Linked DNA regions of Homo sapiens. The protein of the gene in region 1 interacts with the protein of each later gene in a biochemical or structural test. Each region holds a gene or a part of one and is shown in the gene's direction. Other genes may lie near its edges. The genes, in order: GOLPH3L, GLT8D1, GALNT7 and MAN1B1.

Region 1 (7,049 bases):
ATTAAGATGATTTAGGGACATAAATTTATTTCTGAAATTGCACATGTTTTTGGATATGAACTCTGAGCAAGTGTACTCCTGATTTTGAGAATTATTACTGAATTGTGGTTAGAAAAGGGCAAGAAATGAAAATATTCATTATTATATATACTAAGGAAGTTATCATTGGAAAGCTCATTTCAAGCATCAGAAAAGAAGTATATCCTTTTAGAGAATAGTTGTATGACACCTAATCATTAGTCATTTTCCAATATTCATTTTAATAACTATATATACAGCATTATTCACAATAGCCGAAAGATGGGAAAAACCTAAATATACATCAACAGATGAATGGATTAAAAAATGTGGTATATTCATACAATTGAATATCAGCCATAAAAAAAATGAAGTGCCAATACATGCTACAACTTAGATGAACCTTGAAAACATGCTAATTAAAGGAAGTTACTCACAAAAGTCCACATATTGTATTATTCCTTTCATTTGAAAGTCAGAACTGGGAAAGTTATTGAGACAGTCTTAAGGCTGGTGGGAGGATGGCAGAATAAGAGAGTGATAGCTAAGGTATATGGGGTTTGTTTGTGGGGTGATGAAAGTGATGTAAAATTGATTGTAGTGATGGTTGTACAACTCTGTGAAGGTACTGAAAATCATTGAATTGTACACTTATAAATGGGTGAATCATATAGTATCTAAATTATATCTCAATAAAGCTGTTTTTTAAAAAAATTGTATATCCAGCTGGGCACTGTAGCTCATTCCTGTAATCCCAGCACTTTGGCAGGCTGAGGCAGGAGGATCCCTTGAGGCCAGAAGTTTCAGGCTGCAGTGAGCCATGATGGTGCCACTGCATTCCAGCCTGGGTGACAGAGGGAGACCCTGTCCCTAAAAAGTAAATAAATAAATAAATATTGCATATCGTTGCATAAGATTGAAAAATCAAGTGTTGGCTGTTCTTTGAGAAATAACCAATTAGTAATTATTCTATCTTTGTGGAGGCAAATGGAAATCAACCAGTAAAATCTTCCAAAGAAAATCGGAAGAGAAGTCAACATGAATCTGGGAGAATAGTAAGTCTTATGATAATGTATAGTTTGAATACAATGGGAAGGATCAGAATATCATTACTACAGATTAAATTTAAAATGATGAATTTGATATCTTTCGATGTACCTGAGAGTTCTGATATTCAAATTTTGTTTAAATATATTTTGTTCTAAAAATCGAGGTGATTTTGAAATAAGATGCCCTATGTTGGTTTATTAGTTTTTTCCATGTAAACATCTCCTGTCTCATTCCATGAATGATTTAAAGTAATTGGAGGAATTTATAATATATAAATTAAAAATCAGCTGGGTGCAGTGGCTCATGCCTGTAATCCCAGCACTTTGGGAGACTGAGGCAGGTGGATCACGAGGTCAAGAGATCGAGACCCTCCTGGCCAACATGGTGAAACCCTGTCTCTACCAAAAATACAAAAAAAAAAAAAAATAGCTGGGCGTGGTGGCGCACGCCTGTAGTCCCAGCTACTCGGGAGGGTGAGGCAGGAGAATCGCTTGAACCTGGGAGGTGGAGGTTGCAGTGAGCCAAGATCGCGCCACTGTACTACAGCCTGGCGACAGACCAAGACTCCGTCTTTAAAAAAAAAAAAAATCAGTGCCAGGAAAAATATAAGAGAATATAGAATGAGAAAGTGACAGTACAAGAATACTAAGGCCATTTTGTTTATATAGAACTGAAATTGGGCCACAAATTTGATCTGAGCTTTCTAGAGATCAAAACTGAAGTAGAAGGAGGATAATTTACTAAATACATGTGTTCCCTAAAAATATAGGGTCTCCTCCTAGTACCTCTGGAGAAAAAAATATTTTCCTGACTTAAACCCTATAGTTGTTTCATATTTAGAACCTTATTTTACCAAATCAGATAATGTATTTGCCATTTCTGAGATAATTATTCATATTTTTCCAACTAGATATTTTAGTATTATTAGTAGGTTAGAATTAAACAACTGAAAACCTAAGACTATTTTTAAAACTCAAATGTTAACGTCTCAAGAGTACAAAAGCAAGACATGATTTAAATCGTACATGATTCCAAGGTAGAATGTTTTTCTATTTGTAGTTCATTTTAAAATCTTTTTTCCCTTCTTATTGCTCTGAAATATTTGGCTATTTTGAGGACATAATGTTAAATCTATCTTCTCACTTCTAGAGCAGCCCTACTGAAGATTATACATTTTGCAAGTACATACTTTCAGCAGCCATTGGAAGATGTTAATAATAAATTTTACTCTACTTTTAAGAAACCCAGATATAGTTATGCTAGGTATGCTAGGCATAAATTTTTTTAAAAAGAAGAGAAATCTCAGATACATGAAAAAATCTACAATTAAAGACATTTAAACAGGAAAGTATCTATTCTTAGTAGTTGTTTTCTTTTGACAGGTCCTCCATCACTTTGATTCTTCTAGTCAAGAGTCAGTGCCAAAAAGGAGAAAGTTTAGTGAACCAAAGGAACATATATAAAAATTATTTTTGTTCTGCAGGCTTGCAGAGTTCTTCTCACCATTTAAACTGAAGGACCCTATATTATATTTCCCTAACTCTGAAGATGTATATGTAGTTTAAAGCAGTTTGTACACTAAAACTAAGTTTTTGGCTGACTGTCATATTGTGGTCCTTAATCTTGAGATAAATCCAATAGAACTTTTGAATAAAAGCAAAAGTACAAATGTCATAATTGATTCGGTAATAAGTAAAATTTCAAAATTGATTTTGTTCATTACCTACTTAATATTTCCTTTAAATATATACTAACTGTTAAGGCCCTCTAATGCCATTTTTCTAAACAGTAATGTTTACTTTGGTATTAAAATTTGGTATGGATTCACTTTTTACTTATGTTAAAATTATACCATTTAACTGGCTCTTTTGTCATTGTGCTGTTATTAAAACAATGTTCTTCAATATTTTGACATAATGTATTAACATTTTAATATATAATGTACAATTTAAGAATTGGTGCTTTACCTTTACTATGCTTTTTTTTACAGGACAAAAAGACTGATTTTTAAAGTATGGCATTTTTTGCAGCATAAATAAAATATTGTTCAGTACGTAGGCCCTTTTATCGCTTCTAATTTTTATTTAAGTAGCAGGAAATATGGCTTCATTCATTTGAAAGGCTGGTAGGAGGATGGGGGGATAGGGAATACTAATTTTTAGATGATTTCGGTAGCTATTACTTTGCAAGAAGAGTTGAGCACACTTTCTAGAATTTTTGAGTGGTAGTATGAAAAATGCTGTGCTTTTAATGAGAAACCTGGGAGCTAGTTCCAGCCTTGCCTGCTTTCTTTGCTTTAGAAAAAGGAAGACTTAAAACTTGGTCTGTTTGCCGCTTGTAGTTTCAGCAGCCATATTCCAAAAACATACACATCCATGGGTTTGTCAGTAATAAGCGCTATAGGGAATGCTGGTACATATGCGATGGTAGAAATGTATTCATCCTGTTTAAGGTAAACCATATAAACGTACACAAACTGACCCAGATCATGTTTTTCTGGAACAGTCAAGTCAAGGATAAACTGACTGTCAGAAACAACCAATGTAAAAATATTTATTTATTTTTAGCTGTATTGCTTGGATCCCAACACATCTCACTTAATTGTCCCAGTATACGCTACTACAGCAACACACCTGCTACGCTGAAATTAACCCACAGAAACCTTTCGAGATTGGCAGCCCATGTTAGCTCACTCAGCGCTTTGATTGGCTGGTTTAATGGGGGTGGGGAGCGCAGCCCTCTTTCCTCTCTTCCACCAAGGTTCCTTCATTGGATTGACCAGCTGTCAGGTTGAACGCAAACCTGCCTCCTTTTGGTGGTGTTTGTCTGGATCGCAACAGAATAGCTGGGGGAGAGCCTCCCCCTGTGAGCTCCGATTGGCGGGACTCAACCTTGGTGATTTCTGATTGGCGCAATGAAGAAACACCAAGGTAGGTTGCCTAGTGATCCTGAGGAAGCTGATGTGTTATTCCTTCTCTGCATCGAAGGATCAGGAAGTTTGTGCTCTCTGCGTGGCTAAGTTTTTCACCTACTAGGACGGGGGTGGGGTGGGGAGAACAGGTGTCCTTCTAAAATACAGCACAAGCTACAGCCTGCGTCCAGCCATAACCCAGGAGTAACATCAGGTAAGCAACGAGAAAATTACATTTCCTAACGTCCCTTCCCCCCACCAAAAAAAACCTCTATTTTTTAAAATTATTATTTTATGGGAGGGAAAGGTTTGTATTCATTTGGGCCATTTGTTTTCTTTCAAGTAGGATTTTTAACTAGTAAATGTGCAGATGAAACTAATTTCTCAAAGAAACCGCCCCCTCTCCCCCTCCCCCCCTGCCCCGCGAAGGTTTAAAGTTTCTTGGATTGGTTTAGGAAATAGTCCCTATTCACAGTGCCAGATAGGCTTAGTGCGCTTAAGAATTTATTTCATGGTTCTCTTCCTCCTTCACTTTTCTTCCCACCTCCCATAACAAATTATATTTGAAATATACCCTTGTACAAAAAAACTTTTGTAGCTCACTTCATTTGTATTTCTATTTTAAATGTTCACATGCACTTCTGAGTATTCATTTTAATCAATATAAATTTATCGAGCAATAACAATGTTAAAGACAGTGCTAGTTGCTATGGAGAATATATAAACCCAAGAAGACAATATCCCTGTTCTTAAGAAGTTTACAGTTGAGAGACAGCTATACCAAGAGAAAGACTATAATAAATACTTTAAAGGAAGTGAGTATAAATAAAGCTCTGTGAAACAGCTGAGGGAGTGGCCATGAGACACATAGGTAATAGAAAAGAGGAGGTCACTTAAAGGCCTTCACAAGGCCTTTAAAGAATGGGTAGAATGTAAAGAGGAAGAGAAAAGGGTGAAGACCCCAGCAAGTACAGAGGAGCAGAAGCAGAAAGAAAGCATGAGACATTTTTGAGAAAAAGTCTGGCAACACTACTTATTAGGAGCAATGGGAAATATTGCTAGAGGAGTAGAAACGAGTCCAGTCATAGCAACTCTTAAATACCATTATTTTGATCTTGAAAAAGATACTCCTTTATATAATTGCTGATTTAAAATATTTGTTATATATTATCTTAAAAACTGATATCTAGATTTATATAAAATAAAGTATGCTAACTATAAACTTTATCACAAATGATTTAGTGCAGTTTCTTTTGACCGTAGTACATAGAATAAAAGACATGTTCTTTGACTTTTTTTTTTAAATTGAGAAAATTTGTTAATCTTTCAACACTCTCTTGCCAGTAATTTTTGTTTGCAGCTCCTTGTGTATTTGCAAGATATGGCTAGCTAGGACTAGAGCTGCTAAGTTTACTGACTGTGGAATTACTACACATGATTTTCTGAATGTTATCGTCTAGACTTGTGATCTCCAAAGTGAGTACATGAAATGAGTCATTAGGGTATGGGAAGGAAATATAGAACATGTATTTCTATTTAGTTTTTCGTATTCTTTTTTACTTTCTATTTTTTGTGTTTTTTTATAATGTAGTACCATGGAACGTTTATAGAAATTAGATACAAATTATTATATGCATTTTGGGGCTGGATGCTCACAATTTTTTGTTGTTCCATCTTACTTAACTTGGGATCCATTTTGTGAAAGAGGAGTGACAATGGTGGATATTCACTCCTTCTTTATAGATTATGCAGAAAAAATCAGCAGGTTTGGCCGGGCCTGGTGGCTCATGCCTGTAATCCTAGCACTTTGGGAGGCCCAGGCAGGCAGATCACTTGAGGTCAGGAGTTCAAGACCAGCCTGGCCAACATGGTGAAACCCCATCTCTACTAAAAATACAAAAATTAGCCAGACATGGTGGCGCACACCTGTAATCCCAACTACTCAGGAGGCTGAGGCACAAGAATCACTTGAACCTGGGAAGCGGAGGTTGCAGTGAGCCAACATCGCACCACTGCACTCCCAGCCTGGGCAACAGAGCAAGACTCCCTCTCAAGAAAAGAAGAAGAAAAAGAAAAAAAGAAGTCAACAGGCTTGAAAGATGAGCATTTCTACTGGACTTTAGAATTACTCATTTGATCTTTTGTCAGTGCCATCTGTGAAGTCCAAGCTATTGTACTTTGGAAAAGATACTGTATTACCCACCCATTTTTTTCTGGTCATTACTCCTTCCTTTCTTTCTATATTTAAATCTGTAAATATTTCCTATTTGTATGGATGTTTAGTATGCATGTATGAATATATGATTTATTTACATAAGCATACATATGGATTTTTTTTTTCACCACTCCCTCCAGAAACAGGTGAGAATGACCACTTTAACTCACCGGGCCCGTCGCACTGAAATAAGCAAGAACTCTGAAAAGAAGATGGAAAGTGAGGAAGACAGTAATTGGGAGAAAAGTCCAGACAATGAAGATTCTGGAGACTCTAAGGATATCCGCCTTACTCTTATGGAAGAAGTATTGCTTCTGGGACTAAAAGATAAAGAGGTAATGCAGTTAGGTTTGCTAGGCTATCTCAAAGACTATTAAATATTGGAATGTTTTAGGAAGTAACCTAATGGAATATATTTAATAATAAATTGGTCTTAGAATTGTGCTCTAACCATCTGGAAGATGGAGGAGTTGGGACAGTGACCGATACTTGGAGGGTAAAAATCCAGAAGTAGAATTACGTGAAGTGTATTTAATTACAAAATTACTCCAAAATTTTAGAAGATACAGGAGAGGAGGATATAGTATAAAGTTTTGTACTTGTAGTTTCCCAAGTTAGATTAAAGGCGAAATAATACCGTTTATTAAAGTAAGAACAAGGGCCCACACACTGAAGTCTTCTTCAGCTTTGAGGAGAAATAGTCTTTTACATGAAAAGACAAGGAACATGTGTGATTAGTTGCCTTACAGAAATAAACAATTGGTAGGTTTCTTATAGCAGAAATAATTTTTTATTTTCCTCTGTGCATCTTTATAAGGCAAATATCAACAGTTGGATTACGCGGTGGCTCACGCC
Region 2 (6,888 bases), on another chromosome or scaffold:
TGAGGTGATCATAGCTCACTGCAGCCTTGACCTCCTGGGCTTAAGTGATCCTCCCACCTCAGCCCCTCAAGTAGCTAGGACCACAGGCATGCACCACCACACCTGGCTAATTTTTAAAATTTTTTGTGGAGAGGAAGTCTGTGTTGCCCAGGCTGGTCTCAAACTGCATTCAAGCAGTCCTCCTGCATCGGCCTCTGAAAGTGCTGGGATTATAGGCATGAACCACCACACCTGACTTCCCCCATACTTTCTTATTAATTACCATACTGTATATTTTTATTTTGTTTAAACATCTTTTCTTCCCACTTTTATCGTTTTTACTTGAGTGCTTAATTCATCTTCCTAAATTAATTTAAAAACTCATCTTTAAGACTGTGAATTTTCTTCCGAATATACCTTTGGCCACAGTTCAGAGACTTTGATGTGTTACTCTTTTGGCATTGGTTCTAAAATGTCAATCATTCTTTTTTTTTTTTTTTTGAGATGGAGTCTTCTTGTTGCCCAGGCTGGAGTACAGTGGTGCGATCTTGGCTCACTGCAGCCTACGCCTCCTGGGTTCAAGTTCCCCTCCCTCAGCCTCCCGAGTAGCTGGGATTACAGGCACACACCACCATGCCTGGCTGATTTTCGTTATTTTTAGTAGAGATGGAGTTTCACCATGTTGGCCAGGCTGGTCTTGAACTCCTGACCTCAGGTGATCTGCCTGCCTTGGCCTCCCTAAATGCTGGGATTACAGGCTTGAGGCACCATGCCTGGCCTAAAGTGTCAGTAATTCTGATTTCGGTTTTCTCTTTTAGAAGTTTTGATTTCCACAGACTTACAAAGCTAAGGAAGTTTTATGTCCTTGCTCTGGCTACACTGCAGTGTTACTGAATATCACCTGCACAACCTTTACTGCTTGCAGTTTTTTTTTTCCTGTTGCTTTGTACATGATCCGTTATTCAAATGGCCTTATAGGCATTCAATAAAGGTGAAATGTTAAATACAAAATCACTTGTCTATTAAATTTTATTCAAGGTTCTATATAAGATCTGATAAATGGAACTTTGTGATGGAAATGTTTTATATGGTAGCCACTAGTCACATATAGCTATTGAACCTTTGAATCATGGCTAGTTTTAGAGTTTTATATTTTAATTTTAATTAAATAGACGTGTCTAGTGGCACCATATTGTACAATGCAGTTCTCATTCAATAAATCTTAAGTACTTAACAATGCATCGTGTACTCTTCTATGTACTGGGTAGACAGCAGTGAGCAAAACAAAGTCCCCGTTCTCATGGAACTAATGTTCTAATGACAACTATTAATTACATACCATGAAATGTCTCAAACTCCTGGGCTCAAGTCATCCTCCTGCCTTAGCCTCCTCAAGTGCTGGGATTATAGGTGAGAGCCACTGCACCTGGCCAGAAGCACGAACTTCTAACTTAGGCTTTTATTAATTATCTTCCTTGCAGAATAATCAACAGAAGACCCTTTAGACAAAGAACTTGCACTATGAGGTTTAATTGGAAACATTAAAATGGTTAACTCATAATGAATTATAAAACTTTGATAGTTACATTGTACTATCATTTATGAGGCATTTATTTTTCATTATTTACACCTGAAAGAAACTTCATACTTGTGTGTTCTGTTCCCCATCTCAGAGCAAGATTATGAAGAGAAGGTCTAAACTACTTATATAAATCAAAACCCAACTGGGCTAGAAATGAAGTATAAAGAGAACTAAATCTATACACAGCTGTGCCATAAGAGCATTAGGTGGTTTTAGCTCTTATCTGGGGTATGAAAGCAATTTAGCTCATCTCACAGAAACAAAAGCAGGTGCTGAATCATGAAAACCTCAATTATTTTTAGCATGCCTCTTAATTTTTCTTTCCCCTGGTTTCTTGTCGTCTGTGCTTGATTCTTGAACAGGTAACCACTTGAGAGGATGCCGGCGATAGATGGGCCATGGAGGAAGTGTCAGCTGGGCCAGAAAAGAGGAAATGCATAAATTATAGCTATTAAAAGTTTAAAAAATCATTACGTATAATGCCAGGTTCCCAAATGACTCCTATGCTGAGGGAACAAAAAAACAAAAAAAAAAATCCATATTCCTATAAAGGCTCTGTGCCACCATCCATGCAAAATACTGTATGATGATGGGAACAGGCTCACTGCCTATACAAATGGCTTTAAGACCTAAAAGAAAGGTGGGGGCCAGGCGTGGTGGCTCTCGCCTGTAATCCAAGCACTCTGGGAGGCCAAGGTGGGCGGATTGCTTGAGACCAGCCTGGCCAACACAGTGAAGCCCTGTCTTTACTAAAAATACAAAAATTAGCTGGGTGTGGTGGTGGGCTCCTGTAGTCACAGCTACTCGGGAGGCTGAGGCAGGAAAATCTATTAAACCCGGGAGGCAGAAGGTGCAGTGAGCCGAAATCGCCCCAGTGCACTGCAGCCTGGGCAACAAGAGTGAAACTCCGTCTCAAAAAATTTAAATAAATAAATAAATAAAAGGTGAAGGGACAACGTGAGCACCATGAAAACTCCTGCTGGCTTTGACCTTAAGATTATTAGCCAGAGTAGCCGCCAAAGGAAATAAGCTGTGTCCTTTTATATAGTTCGCACCATCTGACACTATTTTGGCATTCTACTTTTCCAATGATAGCAAAGGGAAACGCTGTTTGGAAGGATGAGGGAAACGTTGGCTTTGGGTCTCACTACTGAGTAGGTCTAACCAAACCAACCCGACTCACAAAACCCAAGCTGCCACTAATACCCACAAATTTCTTACCAAACATGAAAAAGCAAATCCGGCCATAACTATATAGACAGTCCACCCGAACTGTTCAGCCACGTACCCGTAGATAAATCCAACTATCTAGAGACAAATGAAGTATATTAAACACACTCAAACTGAGGGTTGGGAGGGAGGCGGGGGCGGAGATTAAATGTAAAACCAATACTTACTGCAGAAAAAAGAATAATTCCCTGAAACATCTGTTCAGCTAGCTTCTGGCCCTTGTAATCCTGGGGTGAAGCAGAGGAAAAAAAGAATTGGTTCCACCGCCGAGAACATACAATTCCTGCCCTGACCTCACAACTCTGGCACAGGGTAACCCCAACATCAGGGTCTCCCGCTCTCCTAAGGGCCTGGGCAAGATATTAAATTCTGGGCTTCCCGGGAGGAACTGAAACACCCTCACGGAGAATGGACAGGAGATTCTCGCGGAGTAGAAGAGAAGGGGACCCAGGAGGCAATTCGGGAAAGAGGGTGGACGGTAACCATCCGGGCCCGGAACAGCGCAGCACCGGGTCGGTGCTCCAACATGGGCTTCGAAGCTGCCAGGCACAAGAACGGCGTGCAGAGGTCCCCGGGTTGCGCCCTCACCATCTGCGTGGGCAGCGAGCTCAGATGCTCCAGCATGGCTGGCTGAGGAGGCGGGCAGCTGAGCGCGGGTGGCAGGCTGCGAGGCGAGGGCGACCGAGACTTAAGGACCGTGAGGGGTAAGGTCTGGCACTGCGCGTCAGTAGCCGGGCCTTCTAAGCCCGGGAGAGCGATGGCGGCGGCCCCGGAAGCGGAAGTCTCCGACGGGCCGGTACAGCCCGTGTCCCCGCCCCGCGCCATCGCTAGGCGACGTGCGCTTTTGCCGCGCCGTGCTGCCCGCGAGGGCAGCTGAGGTGGTGGTGGCGGCCGCCTTGTCGAGGCATCGCGCGCCCGTGAAGTGTTCGCCGTCAGTGCTGTTGGGTGCCTGGAGCCGCGTCCCCCGTCCCGAAAACTGTCCTTGACAGTACTTGCGCGGCCCAACGGCCGCCGGCGCCCCCGCGTCTCCATGGCGACGGCCTTTTTCCCTGCGAGGACCCCGGCGGCAGGGCTGCCCCGCGGCGCCTGCTTGGCGCGACGCTCTAGCGGTTACCGCTGCGGGCTGGCTGGGCGTAGTGGGGCTGCGCGGCTGCCACGGAGCTAGAGGGCAAGTGTGCTCGGCCCAGCGTGCAGGGAACGCGGGCGGCCAGACAACGGGCTGGGCTCCGGGGCCTGCGGCGCGGGCGCTGAGCTGGCAGGGCGGGTCGGGGCGCGGGCTGCATCCGCATCTCCTCCATCGCCTGCAGTAAGGGCGGCCGCGGCGAGCCTTTGAGGGGAACGACTTGTCGGAGCCCTAACCAGGGGTATCTCTGAGCCTGGTGGGATCCCCGGAGCGTCACATCACTTTCCGATCACTTCAAAGTGTAAGGGGGGCCCTACTGACCCTTGGAATTTAGGGGGGCTACCCTAGGCGGCATCCACAACAGAGAGAATTCCCTTGGAGAGGGGACCCTGGTGCTCGGCTGTCCCTCTCATCCGCGTAGAAAGTCCCTCATCTGGGGGCTCCCGAACTCAGCCCTCTCACATTGTGGCCGGCTTTACTGACCCTCACAGACCCAGGCTGGGCCCTCCCGATAGAGGCCAGCCAAAGGTTCACTCAGCCTCTCTTTCAAGGCTGGTGTATCTCTAAATCTTAGACCCTCCTCCGTTACCGTCAGCCAGGTGGGATGCCCACGTTTTGGAGAGAAACCGTTCTGAGGAACCCGGGCCTCTGGGTCCCAGCTGGCTCTCCGGCCCCCAGGTTATGTATTCTGGGTTGGCCACAAACAGTGGAATTCTAGGCACTCCCGGGACAGGGTGGGACTGCTGTCCTCATTCATGCAACCAGCAAATATTCACGGCACCTTGTTTGTGCCAGACAGCAGACCGAGGACACGGTTGTTACCAAGACCAGGCTGTTGCCTTGGAAGAGCCCAGAGCGTGTCAAGGGAGACAGCCACATCACGCCAGAAATACATGACAGCTGGATTAGCCCTGGGAGAGGGAGGCCCAGATGTGGGAGCTCAGGGGAGGTGCAGCTCAACGTGGAGTTTGGAGGAGGCTACCTTGACCTTTGAATGCCAAGTGGGAGCCAGCCAGATGAAAGGGTAGGAGAAAGTGTTTGTATATCCTCAGTGCCCTTTCATCCTTGCACGTGGCAGAGACCAAACAGTAAAATGCAGACACGTTTGACACTTTTCTGACCTCAGAAGGACTCAGGACGTGTAGAAGGCAGAAAGAGGGATGGGCAAGAGTTTATTCCTGTTTCCTTCTCATGCTCTGTATTTCTTGGTGTGTTTGAAGAGACTTTCTGTTGTGTGTATAAATAGATATATCTCTGTGTGGTCTTTTTTTTTTTTTTTTTTTTTTTTTGAGGCGAAGACTCGCTCTGTTGCCCAGGCTGGAGTGCAGTGGTGCGATCGCGGCTCACTGCAACCTCCGCCTCCTGGGTTCAAGGGATTGTCCTGCCTCAGCCTTCTGAGTAGCTGGGATTACAGGCATGCGCCACCACGCCCGGCTAATTTTTGTGATTTTAGTGGAGACGGGGTTTCACTGTGTTGGCCAGACTAGTCTCAAACGCCTGACCTCAAGTGATCCACCCACCTCGGCCTTCCAAAGTGCTGGGATTACAGGCATGAGCCACCGCGCCCGGCCAGTGCGGTCTTTTTTTTTTGTATCCACAGTTTTGTATCCTTGGATTCAACCAACCACGGACTGAAATTACAGATACAGAGGGCTGACTGTAATATGCCATTTTACATAAGGGACTTGAGCATCCGTGAATTTTTGTATACATGGGGAGTCCTGGAGCCAATCCCCGACTGATACTGAGGACCAACTGTGTTGCTAATCAAATTGTACACAATTATATACTCTTACGAAAATGTAGTTAACTATTACAGATCCAGCGTCTGTGTGCAATTTCGTTTTGAGAATTCCTTCTAACCAGATCAGGAAAGCTCTCTTACCAGGAATAGCCCCAGGAAAGACAATATGGATTAGACGTACTCCATGATAACTGGCGTTTTGCATGTAGGTAACTGTGGAAGTTTTAGGAGCAACTGGTTTCTGCCTTGCCAGTCTACTTAAGTATGTCAGATACTTGATAGAATTGTGTTTTTCTTGTTTCCAGCCAAGTGTGCCTCTTGATCCCGTAACTGCTAACTGGAAGTCAAGAAACTAAAAACATTATCTCTTGTACCATTAATTAAGTGGGATTTATTTGAGTGCAAGATCGTTTTCTCAGTGGTGGTGGAAGTTGCCTCATCGCAGGCAGATGTTGGGGCTTTGTCCGAACAGCTCCCCTCTGCCAGCTTCTGTAGATAAGGTCAGCCCATAATGTGATAGAGGCATATGACTTAGGGTATATACTGATGTATATACTTCTCTTTTTTTTTTTTTTTTTTTGAGACAGAGTCTTACTCTGTTGCCCAGGCTGGAGTGCAGTGGCACGGTCTCAGCTCACTGCAACCTCCGCCTCCCGGGTTCAAGGGATTCTCTTGCCTCAGCCTCTCAAATAGCTGGGATTACAGGCACCTGCCACCATGCCTGGCTAATTTTTTGTATTTTTAGTAGAGATGGGGTTTCACCATCTTGGACAGGCTGGTCTCGAACTCCTGACCTCTTGATCCACCTGCCTTGGCCTCCCAAAGTGCTGGGATTACAGACGTGAGCCACGGCGCCCTGATGTATATGAGAAGAAGTTCACTGACACGTTGTACTTCATATATACTGCTTTGGAAAGGTGTGTGTGGGCTGGGCCTGGTGGCTCAGGCCTGTAATCCCAGCACTTTGGAAGGCCGAGGCAGGTGGATCACCTGAGGTCAGGAGTTCGAGACCAGCCTGGCCAACATGGTGAAACCCTCTCTCTATTAAAATTAGCTGGGCGTGGTGGCGCACACCTGTAGTCCCTGCTACTCGGGAGGTTGAGGCACAAGAATTGCTTGAATCTGAGAGGCAGAGGTTGCAGTGAGCCAAGACGGCACCACTGCACTGCAGCCTGGCTGACAGAGCCAGACTCTGTCTCGAAAAAAAAAAAAAAGGAAAGAAAGAAAGAT
Region 3 (7,575 bases), on another chromosome or scaffold:
CATTATTCATTCAGCATTCCATCAAGAAATACTCACTGAGCCCTTTCCACATACCAGACACGGATAACAATAACGAACTAGATAGACAAGGCTCCACCTTCATACACATTTTTATCTGGGTATAGGAAAAAGAAATTAAGCAATTACAATATAGTGGTAATCATTAGGGAAGAAAAGTAGAGGGTGCAGTGGAAGTACCTAGCAGGATACCTACCCTAGTACATTGGTGGGAAGAGATATAGGGGTGTGGAGTGGGACATGTGAGAGAGTCTAGAAAAAGCTTTTTTGTAACTGACATCTAAGCGTAATGTTAAGATGTCAGAAGGTATTTCAGGCAAAAAGAACTCCCCGTACAAAGGCCTGAAGGTAAGTGAGTTACATTTAGAAACTTAGAAGTTCAGCTTGGCTGCAGCATAGCATTGGGGTAGTGTAGCCCCAAAATGGATACAATTCCCTCTGCTGGGCTTCCCTGTAACAGAGTTGACATGGTGGAGAAATTAAAAAATAACAAAGCTTTAGGCTCTGACCTCTTGCACATTATGCTGCCTGAAAACATTTATGTTCCAGATGCAGAAGGCTAATCAGTCTGGCAAGAATTCTGAGGTTGGAAAAACCTGCTTTGAATCCCAGCTTGAGACCAGTAATACCCACAACAGGTTGTGTAGAGGTTAGGTGAAATAATAAATGTGAAGCATCTTACACACACTAGGTGCTCAAATAATTCTCTCCCTTCAGTTACCTTGCTTCTGAGCCCCCAGCTGGACTCTGAGCTGAGGACACCATGTCACCATCCACCACACATGACCCCATGACTTGGCAGAGGACGATGCTTTTCTTGGCCATCTCTATGTCCATCTCATTCAGTTCTAGTCTCTACCCTCTTCTTTAGAGGAACTGCAGCATTCATAAAACAAGAATTATAGCCACACGCACCTGAGACTTGTTCCATTACACTAATTGTACTTTATATTTGTATATGTACTTGATCTCAATTATTCCTTTTGAGAACATCATAAGGTTGAGTATTGTAATCACTATTTGGCAGATAAAAGCCCTAGGTTCAGAGAGGTACGTGATTTATCTTGACTGAAGCTTTGAATGTAGCTCCTCATTTTCTAAACGAGTTCTGTCAACCCTACAAAGGCTGCCTCCCAGCAAATACTGCAATGGGCATATGTTTTAAGGTATATTTGCACTTTTTTTAAACTTTTAAGTTCAGGGGTACATGTGCAGGTTTGGTACATAGGTAAACTTGTGTTATGGGGGTTTGTACAGATTATTTCATCACCCAGGTATTAAGCCTAGTACCCACATTAGTTATTTTTCCTGATCCTCTCCCTCCTCCCACCCTCCACCCTCCAATAGGCCCCAGTGTGTGTTGTTCCCCTCTATGTGTCCATGTGTTCTCATCATTTAGCTCCCACTTATAAGTGAGAACATGCAATATTTCGTTTTCTGTTCCTGTGTTAGTTTACTTGCAGTTTCTTTTAAAAGTTATTAAGACTCAGAGAAACATAAACTTTTACAACTATATACCTATTCATCAATATACAACTGTATAACTATATACTCTTTCACACATATTTTAAGTTCTCTGTGTAAAACTAAAGTTGGGGGGTGGTAGTGGTGGCAGGATGTTCTCAGAATACTAGGGCCTTCAAAGGACCATCCTCAATACTTTGATGATAGGTATCACTTTCCATTTGCATACTTGCCCAGCTATGCTCATAACAGTAAAAATAAAGCTTCCTACCTTCTTAAGAATAAAAAACTGTCTCCCCTGTGAAAATAACACAAGTGAAAGACTTAATTATTCAGGTGGACTTCAGCTGCTGATTTCAAATGGAATTATTCTCTTATGATCACAGGATGCCTTGTAAGTTACCTGTTTCAAGCCCAGTCTCTGCCTAGGGAACTGTCTCCTATGAAAAGGAGTCCGGGTGGACCATGGTGGCTCATGCCTGTAATACCAGCATCTTGGGAGGCCAAAAAGGGAGGATCGCTGGAGGCCAGGAGTTTGAGACCAGCCTTGACAACAGGACCAGATAATAGACCCCGTCTCTACAAAAAATAAAAAAAAAATTAGCTGGGCATGATGACTCACACATGTGGTCCTAGCTACTCGGGAGGTTGAGGTGGGAAGATCACTTGAGCCCAGGAGTTCCAGGCTGCAGTGAGCTATGGATGTGCCACTGCACTCCAGCCTGGGTGACAGAGCAAGACCTCAACTCAAAAAAAAAATAAATAAAAAAGAAAAGGAGTCCACCTCACTTCTGAACAGTTCAAGTTGAGTCCATAAATGAGCCTATTTCTGTCTTCCAAAGATATCCATATAAGACTTTTCCCAACCACCCCCCGCAACCTTGCTTCCTTTCAGTGTTTCTCCAAAGGTGGTGCCCAGATTACCTGGATCAAAATCACCAGGGTACTGATTAACAGGAGATTCCTGGGTCCCAACGCTGACCTGAATCATCACCAAGAAATGGTGCATTCGCTTTTCATATCACATTACCCAGCAGATTCATACTTCGTGAATTACACACTCTAGATCTCTGTCACACAAAAAAAATGGTCTTAGGCAAAATCTCTCATCTTCTACTTAAAACAACTGGTTTTAACCTAAGGGGCTGATATAAATGCTAAGTCAAGCAGTGATTTGTGTTTAACACTTGACAGTCCCTCTTCCAGGTACTCTATATAGTGGACTTTTATACAATATGATGTACAGTCCTTCAGCCAACCAATAATACACCTAACTACAATCCATTCTACATTTCCGGAACCATGCTGTTCATGAGGATATCACTTCAGATATTTTGTGGAAATTTTGAAATTATGGCATCTACAGAACTCCCTGATATACTAGCTATTGTAAGCCAAGCCAAAAAGCACATGAAGGTAGTTTGGTATAATTCTTTATCTATCTTGATAATTGAAATTGTTTCACTGTAAAACTTTACATAACTGAGCTTTGTTTTAAAGCAAAAAACTTGCAGATGTGAGACAGTACGAGAAAAAAGAATCAGCTGTTACCATCTTAAAACTTAGGATAGCCTAGGTGTGGTGGCTCACAGCTGTAATCCTAGCACTTTGGGAGTACGAGGCAGATTGCCTGAGCTCAGGAGTTCGAGACCAGCCTGGGCAACACCGTGAAACCTCGTCTCTACTAAAATACAAAAAAAAAAAAAATTAGCTGGGCGTGGCGGTGTGCACTTGTAGTCCCAGCTACGGGGGAGGCTGAGGCAGGAGAATTGCTTGAACCCGAGAGGTGGAGGTTGAGGTGAGCCAAGATCGCACCACTGCACTCTACTCCAGCCTGGGTGACAGAGTGAGAGACTCCGTCTCAAAAAAAAAAAAAAAAAAAAAAAAAAAAAAAAAAAAAAAAGAAAAGAAAAAAAACCCCAAAAAACTTAGGATAAAATCTTAAAACGTTTTGTTCGACTTAAATTTAAATTAGCAGTTTAGGATATAGTACACTGATAATGTAATTACATACATTCTGCTATAAAGGCATAGACATCTTTATTGGGAGATATGGGCAGAAAAATTATTTCCTCAGGGTGGGGCATTTGGCTAAACACTTGCCAATATCCTTTACTGTGTAATTTAGGTAACACAGGCAGAAAAGGCGTTTGAAAAGCAGAAATCAAGTGGCAAATATCAGATCTGAGGGACGCAATGAGGGTGGAGTTGAAATCCGTGGTCCTTGGATTTGAAACTTACCAGCCCGTGAACAAGGTTGGTATTGCTTTTGGCATAAGACGACAGCCTTTCTTTTCATTAGCTCAGGAGGAATACTGGCTTTCCAAGTGAGCTCCTCCAATCCAGTGATATTTGCACATCTCACCTGGGCCTTTCGGTTACAAATTCACCACCTTAAGGAGCCGTGTGAAAAAGCAAGAACAATCAATAAGAAGGAAAAAAAAAAACCCTTCAGCTATAAATCAGCCACGTGGAGCTGCTGCAGCAGCAGCGGTAGTCCCACTTCCTGGTTGGCTTCCTGAAAGCCTCTCGACAAGGGGCTCAGGGAAGTGGGTCTAAGGGAGAGGTGCAGACGAGAGCGACTCCAGGTCCAACGGAGGGGGCGGCGGGCCACGGGATCCCGGAGGGCACAGGCGTTAAGGACGGAGTTATTGTCCATAATTACAATAAAAGTTTGGGGATCTGAAAGCTTTAAGGAGCTGAGCTGCAGGGCAAAGGCTAAGAACCGGACTCGGGAAAAGTGCAAGTTAGTTACAAGGTAGCAGGGACTGTGAAGGGGGCTCGCGTGGAGAGCAGGGGACTGCGGATCTGGAAGGGGGCAGGTAGAGAGGAAGGCAGCCTGGCAGAGCGAGGCACACGGGTCAGTCGGAGCTCTGCGGTGGCCGCCAGAGGGGAGGGGGCCACGGGGAGGAGCGGAGGGAAGAGCCCGGGGAAAGGTGTAGCCGAGGGGAGTTCCGGATCTGGAGCTGGAAAGGGCAGGCAGCGGAGAGGGCGGCAGCCGTAGCGGTAGGGGTGGGGGAAAGAGGGGGAGGAGAGCCGGAGGAGGGGGAAGGAGGGAGGGGAGAGCGGTGGCGGCGGCTGCGCCGGGCTGTGAGTCTCTCGCCGCCGGAGGAAGATGAGGCTGAAGATTGGGTTCATCTTACGCAGTTTGCTGGTGGTGGGAAGCTTCCTGGGGCTAGTGGTCCTCTGGTCTTCCCTGACCCCGCGGCCGGACGACCCAAGCCCGCTGAGCAGGATGAGGGTGAGTGACCCGCCCGGCCCCCTCCGGCGGCAGCGACCGGCAACTTGTTTTGTTTGCCCGCGTGTGGAGGGAGCAGGGGCGGCGGGGTCGCGGCACGGCGTGGGCACCGCAGCTCCGCAGGTGGTGCTGGCGCAGCGCGGGCCGAGGGGGTGCCGAGCCCCGCGCACTCCGACCTCCCTGGCCGCCGCCGGCCCGCCCCCTCGCCGCCCCTTCCTCCGCTCTTCCCCGCCCCGGGCTCCGTCGCCGACACCCGCGCTGCCGCGGCAGCGGCTCGGGCGGCCGCTCTCCGCGCCGGGACTGCGGGCGGAGCGGGCGGAGAGCCGGGTCCGGGGGGCTGCGGCCGCCCGGCGTCCCGCTCTGGGGGGCCGGGACCGCAGCGCTCACGGCCCGGGGACGCGGGGTTGGTCCAGGCTGCGGCCTGTGGCGCGTGCAGGCCTGAAGGAGGCGAGATGCCGATGCCGCCACCGCTGGTCCGGTGGACCAGGCCCCTTGGTCCAGCCTCCCCTCCCGCAGCCGCCCGTCTGGGGGTGTTCGCAGCCCCGGGCTCCCCCGGCCCGCCCGCCGGGGAGTGGGAGGGCGATGGCGCCCCGCCTCCGGCTCTTACGGAGAGCGCGCCTCCCCCTCAACTCCGGCGGCGGGGAGCCGGGGTGCGATGCGCGGCCGAGGCCTCGCCCGGACCGCCGGTCCCCCTCGCGTCCCTGGGCGAGGGAGGGGCGGTTGGCCGGAGATGGCGGAGGGGCGTCCCCGCCCCGCCTGCCCGCCGCCCCCAGCCCTCAGCGCCTGGGGAAGCCCCTGCTGTGGCAGTGCTCGGGCGCTATCCGGGGGAAGAGGAGCAGTTCCTCTTCCTTGGCTGCGGCAGGGCTGCTTGGGCCGGAAAACTAACTTGTGTCGGCGCCCGGCCGCCCCGCGCCGGCTGCCGGCTAGCTCAGGCCGACGCCGAGGGGAGCGGCGGCGCGGAGCTCGCGGCGGCTCCGCTGGGACGCATTTGTCTGCCGCCCAGGGCGCGAGTGTTAGCGCTGACATTCCTTGGATTTGGAGGGTTTAGTCAGGCGCCTCGGAACATTAGTTACCCGGAGCCGCGCCGCGCGGGGAAGGGACCGCGGGCACTGCGGCTTCCCTGACCCGGCAGCGGGCGGCGCGCACCGGCCTCGCCCCCGACCCTGACCTGCTTCCCCCCGGATGAACCGTTGCACCACCTGCTTCCTCCTCCCCGCTGGGACAGCCAACTGGGCCGGCTGCCAGTGGGGGTAGGAGAGGGTATGAGGGGCTCACGACCGCCGAGGCGGCGGGGCTGCAGGAGGAGTCGAGTCGCTCTCTCTGTTGTAAAGTGCTTTTTGCAAGTGTGATGAGCATCGCTTCTATGTCATGTTTATTTAACTTTCCTTCTGGAAAGTTAGCATCAAGAAGTTGGGCAAAAAGGCTTGTGGCGTCCTTTCAAGAGTAAGAATCCTAGGAGGAGATCCCATTATCAGCTCTTCGCCTATATCATGAGATTAGATGTAATCTGGAAGTTTTAGTATTTGAAGTCTCTACAGCAGTGGAATCCCTTTGTAATATCTGGGATAGATTCCCATCTAAGTCATCTAAATTGATGGTAATAAAAAGTATCAGTTTTCCTTTTCAGTACATTTGCGGTTTTAAGCTTCTCAGCTCATGGAGTGATGGTGATCTTTTTATAATTTTGCTCTCAATATGACTTATTGACAAAGGATAACTGAATATTGCAATTGAGGATATTTGTTTTAAGTCATCAAATGGCTTTTTACATGTAGCTAGAAATGTTTAACCCCCTATTTTCTGGTAGAGAAACTGACGAAAAACTGACAAAACTAGCTAGGTTCAGAATGTCCCGCCCTTCTGATGATCTTTTAAAGAGGTGGCGGAACATCAGCATCACTTGCCAACTCGTGGAATATTTTATTAGTGCAAACAAAGGATGGGCCATAATGCCCATTTCAGTACTATATGGTGATGATAAAGAAGGTGATGATATCTTGATTTTTTGTTTGTTTCAGTGTACTTGATAAAGTTTCTCAGTGGATCCAGTGTAATTTCTGTCATTTGTCAAAAACAAAAGGTAGATTTTAAAGACTTAACATAATTAACATTAAGAGGAATGCTTAGGTATCAGAAGAGCAAGAAAGACCCTTTTATTGGCTTCCCAGGTAAATAGTAATACAAGCAATTTAAAGTGTAGCTTATAAATAATAAGAGCATAAATAAGGGATTATTGCCTTCCTTTAATAAAGACTAACCTAGGAGCTTTTAAGGTACAGTGCTAGAAGGACAAATCCTGTAGGGAGGATTCTGACTCCTGAGTTTCTCCTCCCCCTTGTGGTTCTTTTACTTCGATGACTATTGCATATATTCCACCCATGGTGAGATCTCTGCTTCTCTTTAATGCTGATCTACACATGGACTTTTTTGGATCCCTTTAAATAGCCTGAACGATCCAGTTTACCAGGTATGGGTTCTGCCTCTACTCCAGCAAGCTTGTACCTGTGGCTCCATTCACCCTGTGCCACTTTTTGTCTTGAACTATGAATATGTCATACACTAAATTCTGTTACAGCCTTGACAACTTGGGATGGTCCTTTCTCATCTGCACTATTTCCTTGTTTTAGGTCTGTCCACCTGTGGAGTCAAGACAAAAGAAACATGTTTCTTATTTCCTTCCCATCTCTGGGCCTCTTGCCCTTTCTCTGAAGTGAATGATGTGAAAAATGACCTTACATTTCCGATCATATTCTGTTGTGTGATTTTAAATATTGATTTATTTGAACATTTTTGAGTGCCAATTATATACCAGGCATGGTACTAGTTGTTAAGGAAATACTCCTTGTCCTTAATCT
Region 4 (6,935 bases), on another chromosome or scaffold:
GGGCTGAGAGGAGGCTTCGGGTTGGGGCCCAAGGGAGGTGTGGTGTCATCTGGGGAGAACAGGAGGGCATGTCCCTTTGGGAGCCCGCCTTGTGGATCCACCACACCCCACCGAGCACTAGAAGCTGCATAAGCTACACAGGATGTGCTTCTGCAGCCTACAGATGCAGAACCAGAATGAGGGGGACAATTCCACCCACTCGAGGGCTGCCCCCTCTTCCTTAGCAGACGAACCAGTAATGGGGGCAAGGCTGGGGCATCCCAGCCCACACACCCTGGATGCCCAGCAAGGCCACAGAAAGAGCCTGATGTCCATGATCCAGGTGGCTCTGAGAAGCTTGGCCTGGACACCTGAGCCTGCGGCCGGTACTCCTGCCTTCTCCCCATCTATCCCCAAGGCCTCTGCCTCTCAGCCTCTTCCATGGTCGGTTTAGGCTGCTGAGTTTTCTGTGCTTCCCCAAGAACCAGTGGGATCAATGCCGGCGGCCTCTGTGATGGTTGCTGACTAATCCGGGATTTCATGAGTCAGAGGCACCACCCCTCACCCCAGCTGCCTGCTGCTTCTGACGGATCTTGGTGCTCAGGCTGCCTGGCTCTCCGAGTGAGGACGCAGCCTCCATATTTGGTGCACTCAGGCATGGCTGGGACAAGCCAGCTGCCCCAGGGTTCTTCCCCTGGTGATTCTCGCCTGCTTTCTCATCTCAGGGGAGGCAGTGGCACCTCCCTCTCCCTGCTGACATGAAGAGAGCTATGATATGCCACTGCTGCCAACTCATCCTCTGCCCCCACCTCGAAACCCACAGTCCCCAGTGGAGGGCCACTACTCATCCCCATTGGTTTCCCAGGGGAGGGGTGTTGTCTGGAAGGGCAGGTTCAGATGCAGCCTTCCAGATTTAGAGGCACTGGGAGGACAGTGGCTGAGTGGAGGCGCCCAGACCTGGGCAGGCAGCAGGCTCAGGCCCACACCTTGTGATTTTTGAAACCAAAGCCCAGAAGATGATGTTTACTTCTCTCTCCCTGGCTCTGCCCTTCTTACTGCAAACCATGCTGTGCCTTAGGGCCCTTCTCATAGCTGTTCCTCATGGCCATGACTGGAACAGGGATGCAACCTCTTTCTACACAAGCACAGTTAGTTGGGTGAAGTCTTTTTTTTTGTTTGTTTTAGACGGAGTTTCACTCTTGTTGCCCAGGCTGGAGTGAAGTGGCGTGACCTTGGCTCACTGCAACCTCCAGGCCAGCCTCAGCCTCCCTAGTAGCTGGGACTACAGGCACCCACTACCACGCCTGGCTAATTCTTTGTATTTTTAGTAGAGATGGGGTTTGACCGTGTTAGCCAGGATGGTCTCGATCTCCTGACCTCGTGATCCACCCACCTCGGCCTCCCAAAGTGCTGGGATTATAGGTGTGAGCCACCGCGCCGGGCCGGTTGCTGGCATCTTAATGTTCTGTAGGTGGAATATTTCCAATAAACACAAGGTGCCGTAATTGACTGCTACTCTGGCAAGTGCAGTTTTTGGGCAGTGCACGGGTGTTGGGAACAAGGATCAGGTGTTCACAGCTGTGTCCCAGGGCTGGAGCTCACTGGGGGCCCCCTTAGGGACAGGAGTTCACACATGAAGGCCAAGACTACTTGGGGTGCCAAGGAATCCCCCCGCGGTCCCATCCCACTCTTCACCAGGGTCTCAGGAGGGCCTGAGACAACCTGCGGTCAGGAACCTCGGGGCGCTCTCCAGGGCAGGCTTCTGCATGCTCAGCTCTGACAGCCTGGAGACTCGCTCTCCTGCACCTGCATCCTTGAGATGCCAAGGTTTCCCTGCTAACCACGTGAGGATGCTTGGGGTACTCCAGGGACTGACAAGAGTGAGTGGTGTCAACCTAAAGAGAAACTCAGGCTCTCCAGAATAAATGAATTTAATCAAGAATAACACATAATTGCAATGCAGAGTATGCAAGCCTCAGTGGGTCACAGGCATGTGGTGGGGGGGTGGGGTGGGGATTGAGGAAAGGGGGAATTTTTTTTTTTTGAGACTGGATCTCACTCTGTTGCCCAGGCTGGAGTGCAGTGGTGCAATCATGGCTCACTGCAGCCTCGACCTCCTGGGGCTTAGGTGGTCTTCCCACCTCAGCCTCCAGAGTAGCTGGGACCACAGGTGCACACCACCACACTGGACTCATTTTTTTATTTTTTGTAGAGACAGGGGTTTCACCATGTTGCCCAGGTTGGACTCCTGAGCTCAGGGGATCTGCCCACCTTGGCCTCCAAAAGTGCTGGGATTACTACAGGCATGAGTCACTGTGCCCCGCCCACGGGAAATTTCTTTTTTTTTTTTTTTTTTTTTTTTGAGACAGAGTCTTGCTCTGTTGCCCAGGCTGGAGTGCAGTGGTGCCATCTCGGCTCACTGCAACCTCCACCTCCTGGGTTCAAGGAATTCTCCTGCCTAAGCCTCCCGTGTAGCTGGGACTACAGGTGCCTGCCACCAACCATGCCCTGCTAATTTTTTTGTGTTTTTTGTAGAGACGGGTGTCTCACCATGTTGGCCAGGCTAGTCTTGAACTCCTGACCTCAAGTGATCCACCTGCCTCGGCCTCCCAAAGTCCTGGGATTACAGAAGCCACCGCGCCTGGCCCCAAGGGGAATCTTTTAAAAAAGAGAAGTTCCCATAAACTGCTTTGAAACCATAAAGACCAAAGGTTAGAAGGGTTTGCCGCAGGCGCTCCGTTGCTAATGTTTTTGTGAGGGCTTCTTCAGGGCCTCTTGTTAGAGTGTGACATAAACGACTTCATTTGGGTACCAGCAAGTGTCACAGGGGGCAGAGACCAGCAGAAACCTAAAGATGACCCCTAGAAGAGCAGGAGGCCAGGGGAACAGAGTTAGACGAGCCACGTGCTAAGCAGGACGTCGCTGCCGGGGGAGCTCTCCAGACACGCAGAAATGCCACAGTCAGGACCGTGGGACGCAGCGGATTCGCCCAAGGGCAGGAGCAGCCTGGCCAGGAGAGAATGAAGGAGGGGCCGGGCGTGAGGTTCGGCTGGGGAGAACCCAGGCAGGGAGGGCCTCGGGCGGCCACGGACGCCGCTTTGCCATTTTGGGCGTTTCTGGGGAGGACAACGCGTGCAGGAAGCGCAGTCATCTCAAGCTGACCTCCAAGGTTACCGAGTTCGAGGGCTGGGAGCCGGGTCTGAAAGCCCCGACCCGCCTATGGCGCGGGGACTGTGGGTCCAGCCGGCCGATTGGCCGCCTCGCTCGGCGCCGGTCCAGGCGCAGCGCTCGGGCCCCGGGGACCGTGAGATGCGGCGCAGCCAGCTTAGCTCGGGGTAGCAGCCACCCCAGCCCGGGTGCCGCCCGGCCTGGTCCGCGACTTCGGGAGGGTCCGGTCCTTCCCCCGGCCCCCACGCCTGGGTGAGGCCCTGGGCTTCTTGCCGGTGACCACGCGGCCAGGGTGGGCACCAGCCCAGGACGGCGCCCAAGGGCAGCCCAGCTCCATCCCCGCGCCGCGGGTTCCGGAACCGAGGCGCGGGACGCTGGGACTCTCTGCCAACATGGCGGCCCCGCCCGGGCGCCTCCCCGGGTCCCTAGTGTCTGCGTCTCCCGTGAGGGCGTGGGCAAAGTCGGTGCAGCCAGACGACAGGAGGCGAGAGAAGCCCAGCTCCAGGCCCATGAGGCGAACCACGTGGGAGCCCCAGACAGCGACCACGCCCCAGGCGAACCAAGGCCCGCCCCGTTGCTACAGCTACGCTCGTAGCACACCTGGGCAGGCGCTGCCGGACGCATGCGCAATGAACCTGAGGGCAGGGCGGAGTCGCAGCAGTTGTCTGACGCAGTCGCCGTAGGACGCAGCCCCGTACGCTGGAGCGCAGCGGAGACAGGCGCGGGCGCACTGGCCGCATAGAGACGCAGCGCACGCGCAGTCGCGTATCCGTGTGATGGGCGGGCTGTTGACGGCGCTGCGATGGCTGCCTGCGAGGGCAGGAGAAGCGGAGCTCTCGGTTCCTCTCAGTCGGACTTCCTGACGCCGCCAGTGGGCGGGGCCCCTTGGGCCGTCGCCACCACTGTAGTCATGTACCCACCGCCGCCGCCGCCGCCTCATCGGGACTTCATCTCGGTGACGCTGAGCTTTGGCGAGAACTATGACAACAGCAAGAGTTGGCGGCGGCGCTCGTGCTGGAGGGTGAGGGTCGCGCCGGGCTGACTGGGGCCCGGGGCTGCCGTGCCCGCCGCCCTCCCAGACTGCGGCTCCGAGCGGGACCTGGGCGGGCGGACTCGACTCCCCAGGCGCCGCCCTCTCCACCCCTTCCCCGCAAAAAGGGGCAAATGTGCGTTCCTGGTTGGGGCAGCCGTGGGCGGCTCGCCTGCAGCGGTCTCAGCGGCCCAAATTCTGCGGGGCGGTGGTGGGAAGAGGGCTCAGAGCCCCAGCAGGTTTTCTGGGCTTCGTTCGCTTTTCTGCAAGGTCCTGGCCCAGGCGCCTGCCCCTCTTGGAGCGGAAACCGGAGGTTCCCCGTGGTGTATGCTCCCCTCGGTACAGTGAGAAATGAGCCCCTCTTGATTGGCTCCTGGTCTGTTCGTGGTGGTCTCAGGCCGAAGGGCATTGATAACCACATGCGGACTGTGCATCGCCTGGGCGGTGCCTGGGCTACATCTGTGGGAGTCGCAGGAGTCTTTCTCCACTGTTGATGAAATGTGACAGAAATGTTTCTGCTTTTTTCTTATCCTCGTCTCATCTGCACCACTGTATTAACGACATCTGTAGTATTGTCCCAGCAATGTTCCTACTCCCTGCTGAGAGGGAACTTCTCCCCATTCAAAATAAATAGAGCTGGCCGGGCACGGTGGCTCATCCCGCGTTCCACCCACTACACTCCAGCCTAGGTGTAACAGAATGAGACCCTGTTTCCAAAAAAAAAAAGAAATAGAGCTGAACACTGGATCTTCCAGAAGAATTCCTTATTGTCCTCACAGTTTGTGACAGTTGAGACGTTCCGTGTGATATATTCAGTAAGAAATGTCATTCTCTGTACCTCCCTTAGAAATGGAAGCAACTGTCGAGATTGCAGCGGAATATGATTCTCTTCCTCCTTGCCTTTCTGCTTTTCTGTGGACTCCTCTTCTACATCAACTTGGCTGACCATTGGAAAGGTATCAGAAACACGTGTACTTGAAAACGATATCTGTGTTGAGGGTTGATTGGGCAGAAGCAATCTTGCATTCTACCTTAAACAGCTCCAGGAGGCATATATGGCAACGAATTGGCAAGAAATCAAGATAAAGAGAAAGGTAGAGCTGTATGTAACCACCTGGCTAGAACACAGATGTTAATTTGATGCTGTCTGACTACTTTCTAGGTCTCTGGTGTAAGTACTGATATGTCCAGCCTCCCTTATAGAGTAAGTCAGCTGGTGGGCTTGAACACTCAGCCTAAATAACCACACAAATTTCGTAGCACTCATTAGCGTGTGTTTGGAAAAGACCAGGCAGAGTTCTGGTGAGGATGTGGAGAATCTCTTCTCACTTGGTCTAAGATGCTTCTCTTTGGAGCAAAGCTAAAGGGCTCCTGCCCACCTGCCACATGCTGAACGTCCCTGAATGGAAAATAGGAAGGCAAAAGATGTGGGGTTCTGTGTTATGGACAAGGACACAAACTGCCAAGTGTTTTGAAAAAGATTTCATTCCCTTGGGACATTGTTGAATTCATTTCAGTGACTATCAGGTATCATAATGTTGATTTGTAATGGATAGTGCCTGCCAAGTGTTTTTATAAAGCAGTTTAAATCTCTTGTAGGCCTTGTGGCATATTTGAAATAAAATAGCTTCTGTTATTCAGCTCTGGCTTTCAGGCTAGAGGAAGAGCAGAAGATGAGGCCAGAAATTGCTGGGTTAAAACCAGCAAATCCACCCGTCTTACCAGCTCCTCAGAAGGCGGACACCGACCCTGAGAACTTACCTGAGATTTCGTCACAGGTACTTTGAGCAAATGGTGTGGGGTTATAACTGGGGTTCAATCCAGAGGCATTTCAAACCACTGAAGATTGAGAAGAATTATTTTCCTTTACCATTTATTACCACGTGTTTACCTCTCTCTCGTTTTGGACTGGTCGGATAATACTTGGGGAAAGAGAGGCGTAGTCTTTGCTTCATTCTTTTTGAAGACCAGCCATGGCCAGTTCCGGTTTTACTTCTGACTGTGCAGTGTTGAATAAGACAGACCTGTTTCCTCTCAAGAGGCCACAGCTGGTAGGAGAGGCTGGTGAGAAGCCAGGCACAGATGGGCAGAGGCAGATGGCACATGGTGTACATCCTATGTGGAAAAGAGCAGGGCGCTGGTGAAGAACAGTGGCTGGTCCTGAGGGTTCAGGGGAGGCCGTGGCACTGAGGGCAAGATCTGAGGGCTGAGAAGCTGCTGGCACCGGGCAAGGTGGGGAGAGGCAGACTTGAGCCTGAGTGAAACTGCCTGAGGCAAGGAGGACCTTGGCATATGCGGGAAGGTGAAATTCCCAGGGCTGGGAGAGGGAGCAGGGGTTGGCTCAGTCCAGCTGTGGTCCTGCAGGTCCTGGAGGCAGCATGGAGGGTCCAGTTGATGTATGCGGGAAGATTTTGGCGTGGACTGGAGGTCTGAGATGTTTACTGTGAAACTGCTCTGGCTGGGTGGAGACACAGTGGAGGGCAGGAGGCCAGGAGAGCTGCCTGGCCGTGGGAAAAGCTGAGTGGGGGGAGGAGTGCTCCGCAGGAGTGGGCCTTGGGAGAAGGAGGGTGAGTCCCCGGGTGGAGGGGCCAGCAAAGGCTGTGCAGGCTCTGGCTTGGGGACACTGAGGAGCTCCGTTTTGGATCTGCCCACTGTGAGATGTCTGGGAGGCGCCATGGAGACCTTGGTGGGCAGGTGGTGCCAGGATCAGAGTCTGCCAGGGGAGACAGGTTTTAGGAGTCCCTAGGTATAGGTGGTT

The links.
Region 2: the proteins of GOLPH3L (region 1) and GLT8D1 form a complex in vitro, tested with the Homo sapiens proteins (one study listed by BioGRID).
Region 3: the proteins of GOLPH3L (region 1) and GALNT7 form a complex in vitro, tested with the Homo sapiens proteins (one study listed by BioGRID).
Region 4: the proteins of GOLPH3L (region 1) and MAN1B1 form a complex in vitro, tested with the Homo sapiens proteins (one study listed by BioGRID).

Annotation. Positions count from the first base shown.
Region 1 is NC_000001.11:150,694,136-150,701,184, reverse strand, and holds the start of GOLPH3L (Golgi phosphoprotein 3-like), read left to right. Parts: upstream 1-4,030; 5' UTR 4,031-4,193; exon of another isoform or gene 4,194-5,425; coding exon of another isoform or gene 5,426-5,455; intron 5,456-6,334; coding exon of another isoform or gene 6,335-6,346; coding exon 6,347-6,529; intron 6,530-7,049. Other genes in the region: HORMAD1 (HORMA domain-containing protein 1), read left to right, coding at 1,002-1,073, 2,451-2,531. UniProt on the Homo sapiens protein: Phosphatidylinositol-4-phosphate-binding protein that may antagonize the action of GOLPH3 which is required for the process of vesicle budding at the Golgi and anterograde transport to the plasma membrane.
Region 2 is NC_000003.12:52,702,774-52,709,661, reverse strand, and holds the start of GLT8D1 (glycosyltransferase 8 domain-containing protein 1), read left to right. Parts: upstream 1-3,870; 5' UTR 3,871-4,215; intron 4,216-4,709; exon of another isoform or gene 4,710-4,938; intron 4,939-5,733; exon of another isoform or gene 5,734-5,863; intron 5,864-5,963; exon of another isoform or gene 5,964-6,158; intron 6,159-6,888. Other genes in the region: SPCS1 (signal peptidase complex subunit 1), read right to left, coding at 1,850-1,975, 2,783-2,869, 2,959-3,018, 3,380-3,415.
Region 3 is NC_000004.12:173,164,239-173,171,813, forward strand, and holds the start of GALNT7 (N-acetylgalactosaminyltransferase 7), read left to right. Parts: upstream 1-4,572; 5' UTR 4,573-4,597; coding exon 4,598-4,723; exon of another isoform or gene 4,724-5,414; intron 5,415-7,575. UniProt on the Homo sapiens protein: Glycopeptide transferase involved in O-linked oligosaccharide biosynthesis, which catalyzes the transfer of an N-acetyl-D-galactosamine residue to an already glycosylated peptide.
Region 4 is NC_000009.12:137,083,051-137,089,985, forward strand, and holds the start of MAN1B1 (endoplasmic reticulum mannosyl-oligosaccharide 1,2-alpha-mannosidase), read left to right. Parts: upstream 1-3,934; 5' UTR 3,935-3,949; coding exon 3,950-4,168; intron 4,169-5,024; coding exon 5,025-5,133; intron 5,134-5,217; exon of another isoform or gene 5,218-5,348; intron 5,349-5,818; coding exon 5,819-5,955; intron 5,956-6,935. UniProt on the Homo sapiens protein: Involved in glycoprotein quality control targeting of misfolded glycoproteins for degradation.